Linked DNA regions of Homo sapiens. The protein of the gene in region 1 purifies or fractionates together with the protein of each later gene. This does not show direct contact. Each region holds a gene or a part of one and is shown on either strand. Other genes may lie near its edges.

Region 1 (3,500 bases):
ACATTCAGCACCTCTACAATAACCAAGCTCACCCAAGAATAGTATCATACAAAAAGACCCAGGATATTAGAAGGAGAAAGAACACTTATTTTTGTGTATTATTTAACCACAAAAAGAATATAAGTCCTGTTCAATTTCCAGATCCTAAAAATGGAGGCCTTGTTTCCTAACGCATTGTTTATATTTATCAAAATTCCATTACAAGAAACTGAATGTGGAAGTCATAGAGTGCCCATAGTGGTGGGAGTTTACCTGAATCATGTAGCCCTTTGCCACCACAAAGGAGCAAGCGCCCAAAGGGACTAGGCTTTAGTCCAGCCCAGCTTGTCTGCACAATGGGAGGTCACTGGAGGTCCCCGAAGGCCACTGCATCCCTCTGAACGCAGGTCTCTCATCTGCCGATCACATTCGTTAGCAACCTCTCTCTTTTTTCTCCCCTCTATTGATTTGGGAGAAAAATAGATTAACATGTTTCTGTTATTTTAAAGATTGAGTAAAATACCAAACTGTTCATTTTAATAGGTAGAGTATTATAGAATCTCAACAGGAAAAAAAAAACATCCTGAGTAGAATAATTACATTCATTTTCAAGGGGGTAATACCACTCACAAGGAAGCAAAAGGTGGCTCAGCAGGGAGACTACTCTTACGTAATAAAGCACAGACTTACCTGCGGTCCATAAACACATGCTTTATCTCTGTGGTGTTGAAACTTCATGGGGAGAGAGATGTGGAGAAAAATGTCTAAAAGGCTCTTTCGGGGGACAATAATGAATGAAAATAAGGTGGAGAAACACTGATTTAAAGAAAATGTTTTCATAACTCTGAGATTTTACAGTTGAATTTTTATAAAGGATAATAATGATGCATAAAATATTTGCCACTTCATCCAATGATAAGAAACTTCATCCCAAAGATTTCAATTATTTAACTTCAACAAAATTCAGCCAGGTTTTAGAAGACCCCAAAATGAATGTCAAGAGTTAGCTAGTGACAAAGCCAGCATTGGCTTCAACCACAGGCTTCCCAGAACTCTTCAGAGAAAGCTCACCCAACTATGGCTGTCACCCCGTAGGCACTGTCACCTCAAATCCCTGTTTCAGAATGTGGAATTCCAAGTCTCTTGGCTTCAGCACCAAGGCTTTGTGTGATAATAAAGCCTGAAGCTGCAATGGAATCGGCTGTACGGTAGCAACCATCCAGAAAGGAAACACCACTGTTACCAAGAGTATCACAGTTGGAAGATGTTAGGTGGGGATCTCGTTTTAATACTGAAAGTTTAGGGAAATTAGTACAAAGCACCTAACTGTAGTAGAATTTGACAAGTGATGCACCAACTTCTTTTAAGTAAGCTTTTTAAATTGAAGTATAACTTACACACAGAAAAGTACGTAAATTATAAGTGAAAATTGATGCAAAAATAAATACACTCCTGTATCCAATACCCAAACCAAGAACATTTTCAGTACCCCAAAAGCCCCCTTTGTCTCCCTTTTCCATGATCATCCTGACTTCTATCCCCAGAGATTAGTTTTGCCTGTTTTGGGTTTTTTTTTTTTTGAGACAGAGTCTCACTCTGTCGCCCAGGCTGGAGTGCAGTGGTGCAATCTCGGCTCACTGCAAGCTCTGCCTCTCGGGTTCACACCACCTCCAGGGTTCACGCCATTCTCCTGCCTCAGCCTCCCGAGTAGCTGGGGCTACAGGCGCCCGCCACCACGCCTGGCTAATTTTTTGTATTTTTAAGTAGAGACGGGGTTTCACCGTGTTAGCCAGGATGGTCTCGATCTCCTGACCTCATGATCTGCCCGCTTCAGCCTCCCAAAGTGCAGTTTTGCCTGTTTTTGAACTTCATATACACGCAATCTTACAGTACACCTACGTGCATCTTTGTTGGTGCTGATAGCAGTTCATTTTTGTTGTTGTTGTTTAATATTTCGTGACTGACTATAACATAATTTAGCCATCCAGCTTACTCTTGATGCGTAGTTGGGTTGCTTCCAGTTGGGGCTATTAGGAATAACCCCACAGTAAATAGTCTGTGTCTTTTGGCATACATACATGTGTCTTTCTGTTAGATGTCTTATCTAGGAATGGAATTGTGGGATCATAGGATAGGCAGATGTTTTCCTTTAGTACTACGAAAGAAAAGTTTCAAAGAAAAGATGTTTTTCTTTAGTACAGTTTTGCAAAGTAGTTGCATCATTCACAGCTCTGCCAGCAGTGTGTGATTGTTCTGGTTGTCCCAGGTACTTGGTATCAGTCTTACTCATTATATCAATTCCACTGAAAATGCAGGGCTATTCTGTTGTGATTTGCAATTTCCACATACCTAATGAGGTTGAATCATCTTTCACTTATTTATTGACCATTGGGATATACATTCTTGTGATACATCTGAGATTTTTCCCCCCACTTTTCCACTGGGTTTTCTGTCTCTTTCTTACTGATTTTAAAGACCTTTTTATATACTCTAGATATGAGGTCTTTGTCAGAAATATGTATTACAGATATGTTGTCCTGCACTGTGGCTTGACTTTTCACTGTCTTAAAGATGTCCCTTTTACTTAGTGCTTTTTATGTGCTGTTTAAGAAATCTTTGTCTACCCAAAGGCCATGAAGATACTATCCTGAGTGTTTTTCTGAAAGCTTTATTTTCATAATTCACATGTAGATTTTGGGAACAAGGTGAGATGGGGCCAGTCAAGAGCCATGTTTTTTTCTGTGTGAATTTCCAACGTAGCATGGCACCATTGAAGTCCCGCCCTCTCTCCACTACATCACAGTGTCCTCTTTTTGGTAACTCAAGGGTCCGGGTATGCAGAGGGCCGTTTCTGGATTTGCTGGGGCTCTCTCATTTGCCTGTTGTTCTGTCCCTGTATCAGCAACATCACACATTAATTACGTGTTGATGTCTGGTGGTGTGACTCTTCCAGCTTTGCTTTTCTTCAAGGATTCATGGCCATTCTTGGTCCTTTGCATTTCCATATAAAGCTTAGAATCGCCTTCTAAATTTCCGTCACGCTAGCAAACAAACAAAACCTGCAGGGATTTCATTGAGATCTAATGTAATTGGCATCTTTACAATATTCAGCCTTCCAATCCATAACCATGGTATTTTTCTCTTCATAAGTTAGTCAAATTGTTAATAGAAGCAATGTCAAATCTAGAAATTATTTTATTATAAACTCTAATTTTTGTTTTCTTTTGAAGGCCACTCAATGACAAAAATAGTAACAGTGGGAATTCAGCTTTGAACAATGCCACACCTAACACACCAAGACAGAATACATCTACTCCTGTGAGAAAGCCAGGACCTCTGCCTTCTAGCCTGGATGACTTAAAGGTGACAATTGCAACTGGAGCTTATTCACCCCTAAGTACCACAAACATGTAAATGATTTGCCAGCGTTGTCTAGCAGACATTAAGTAGTTTTCAGTAGACATTCAACTTTACCAACAATATGATAATCTTTATAAAAGGTATTTTCTTTTTACTTCCAC
Region 2 (3,500 bases), on another chromosome or scaffold:
GAAAAATTAGAGTTAGTCACATTGAGAAATCCCCAGTTTTTAATAGCTCTCTTTCCTAAATACTCAAAAAATCCAGACTAGAAAAATGGAAGTGAACTGTTAGATAAACACGTAAGTACTCAACAAATATTTAAAAAGAAACAAACCAAAAATGGGGGAGTTGGGGGAAACAGGATGGCCTTATGAAACACTGTGGAGCTACCCAGCAGCAACATTTATAAAAGCTTGTGTAGATTTGCATAATGCTCCTATGCAATTCTTCCCCATTAGGAAGACATTCCTACAAATAATTCATCACTTTAGATTTTGATCATAGATCATTTATAATGGTTATCATGGTTGTATCTTTAAAAAATTTCATCCATTAACAGTTATGACAAACATTAGGCCATTCTTTGCTAGTATATTATTCCTCAACTATTACTAATGAAACCAAAACCTCAGAGTTGTTTGAATTAGAATTAAAATATTAAGCTAGAAAAGATTATTTAATTCTTAGAGAGATACCCAAAGAATTTGATGCTGATATTATCTCCCCTATCCTCTCATCACAACCCCCTGGCCTGCATTTACTTCCTTAATTCCATCTATATTCACCACAGTGATGTAGCTAAACAAGAACAATATTGCCCTTTAATAAGCTGACCTCTATCAAAGATCTGTCAGGTCTGAATACAGCATGCCCACAGGAAAGGAAAATTCTACTCAGTTGTGAACATCCACTCTGTTCAAGATCTTTGGTACATTTGGAGCATAAGAAAATAATGGCACAATAATACAAGTACTATCAAAGGAAAAATTTTCATCAAAAGAAATAAAAGTTAACCAGCCATGATATGTAACAACTTTCTAGAAAACCAAAGTAAATAGCTTTTTGTTCTCTATAAGTCCATTTACATGATAGAAGTTTGACATTTAAAAAAATAGTTTAATAAAAATACACTAATTCTACAAGCAGCCTTCATGGTCATGTCTTAAATTCAACTCACCATAATCAAATTAAAATAATGCCATGTCCTCTTGTTAAAAAAAGAAGTTCTCTTGTCACAAGAAAATCAACTTTACATGTTATATAATACAGTACATCTCCCTATGAGTATACAGACTACGTATATGAAGGTCATCAGTATTTCTGAATGCAACGTAAATATATTAGTGGAGTGCTTGAGTGAAGGTGTTAAACTTTGTCTTCCTTATTATAAACTTGTCACTCCTTACTGTGAAGTTTGTGTAATAACTTGATGATAAATTCTATTTTGTAAAGAACCAGTGAATTTCTTTTTAAATCTCTTAAAACCATTACAGAAATTGTCTTCATATATATTCTACAGATGTCCAAACCAATAGGGCAATGTTCTAACACCAACTATGGAAGATGGCTTTTACTGATTATCTAGACCCATAAGATTTGCAGTAAAACATCAATACTGCAGTGTTACCTACAGGTTAGCCTATGTTGCTTTAAATGATATGTGTTTCTCCTGAATTGATTAGAGGTGTTACAGTTCAAAGCCACAGCACACACAGGCAGAATGGACCTTAATACGCATGTAGGCAGTGCAGTTAGAAAGGGATGTCTGTTCCTTTTATTCCAGTACCTTCATATAATAAAGTTAACAAAAATAATAAAATATTAAAAAAAAGAGCCAGCTGGCACTGCCAACCAATTCCTATAGTAGTCTTAGAAATCCTAATCCTGTAGAATTTCCTCTTGTAGTCAATAAGCACCACCATCTTCAGGAGTATTTCAGTGTATTGTTATCTACGCCAAGCAAGCCTGGTGATGCAGCTACCTGAGTTCTCTTGGTTATGGGTGAATGTTATCTTCATTCATAACTTCCCAGCTTTCATGTAGGTGGGGATAGAGCCACGTTGAGTCAACCCTTCAAACCTTTTATAGGTATAATTGAGAAAAACCCAGTCTTTGGATTTGTAGTCCGGTTCTGTGGTATTTGGCACTAGAAAGAGAAAAAATAAAGGAATTTCATTAGTGAAATGCCATCATCTTCAAAGACTTTTAATAGGGTTAGTTACATTACAGATTGTCTTACCTGGTTGTAAAATATCAGATTCAGGGAAGTCATCAAAATTTGAAGTATCATCAATGCTTTTGATTTCTATAGGGATTGCTGCTGGCCTTTCCCTATAAAAAGGTATTAAGTATGCATGGTAACTTTTCTTGAACTCTCAATTTCCAACAAATAATTCTACTTGTAAATTCTGCATACTATTCTACAGATACTAGAAAATCCAAGGAAATTTATTGTGGATTTGAGATTAGTTAAAGGGAGTTCAAAATAGTTGAGTATAATTTTTTATTAAAATGTTTTCATTTACTTAGAATTTTAAATATTTTTTTAATTTTTGGGGTTATGTGGTAGGTATATATATTTATAGGGTCCATGAGAGGTTTTAATACTGGCATGAAATGGGTAATAAGCACATCGTGCAGAATGGGGTGTCCATTCCCTCAAGCATTTATCCTTTGAGTTACAATCCAATTACATTCTAAGTTATTTTAAAATGTACAATTATTATTGACTATAGTCACCCTCTTGTGCTATCAAGTAATAGGTCTTATTCATTCTATTTTTTTTGTATCCATTAAGCATCTCCACCTACTTGCCATTTTTATATCTCTGTACCCAAGGCTTTCTCATCCTATTTTTTTAAGTGGAAAAATGAGCTAATGAAAAGTAAAAGAAGAGGTTTTATTTAAAAGATTGTATAATTGTATAAAGTATTTGAGATATTATGAGGACAGGATCCTTCTTAATTGATTTAGGAATAGAATTCTACTAGTAGACAATCCATAAATTAAAAGTCATTTGGGAAAATAAGGGGCACATAGGTGAAGGGACTATATATTTGTGATGAAATCTGCATGCAAAAACTTCTGTCATACAAATTTTAAGAGAATCAAAGATACTCAGTTAAAAAGAAACCAGTCATGAAAATGCCTTCTTATCATGCTAAAAAGTTTAGCTATACAAATGGTTAAAAGAAGCTATCAGTTTTTATTGCTTCTGTTTTTTCAACAAATATTTATTGGATTTATTAGGTGCTAAGTTTACCAAATTATTTAAAACCATATATATTTTTTACCAGAATTATTCCAACTCATTTATACTTAGTATACTACTTTAATAAACCTAGTTTAGAGGAAAGAACCCTGGAGGCCTGAGAGCTAACCTTCCTTGTTATTAACTAGCAGTATGACCTTAGGCAGCCAAATCCCTGCTCCATGACTGTTCCCTCATTATAAAACCAAAAGAACTGGCAGTCTCTAAGCATCCTTCCCACTGTAAAAGGGAGGGTATTCTAGTTCTATTCAATTAAGTTATGTGTGTATAGTATTATACAGCATAGTGGTTAAGAGTTAGGCCTCCACCAGGAGAATGGCGTGAACCCGGGAGGTGGAGCTTGCAGTGAGCCGAGATCACGCCACTGCACTCCAGCCTGGGCGACAGAGTGAGACTCCATCTCAAAAAAAAAAAAAA

Evidence for each region. Proteins that work in one complex are often made in the same cells at the same time.
Region 2: the proteins of MRTFB (region 1) and STK38L purify together in Homo sapiens (pull-down; one large-scale study listed by IntAct). This does not show direct contact.

What each region holds. Positions count from the first base shown.
Region 1 is NC_000016.10:14,242,319-14,245,818, forward strand, and holds part of MRTFB (myocardin-related transcription factor B), read left to right. Parts: intron 1-3,209; coding exon 3,210-3,342; intron 3,343-3,500. UniProt on the Homo sapiens protein: Acts as a transcriptional coactivator of serum response factor (SRF). Required for skeletal myogenic differentiation.
Region 2 is NC_000012.12:27,320,786-27,324,285, reverse strand, and holds part of STK38L (serine/threonine-protein kinase 38-like), read right to left. Parts: intron 2,144-3,500; coding exon 2,052-2,143; intron 1,959-2,051; coding exon 1,831-1,958; 3' UTR 1-1,830. UniProt on the Homo sapiens protein: Involved in the regulation of structural processes in differentiating and mature neuronal cells.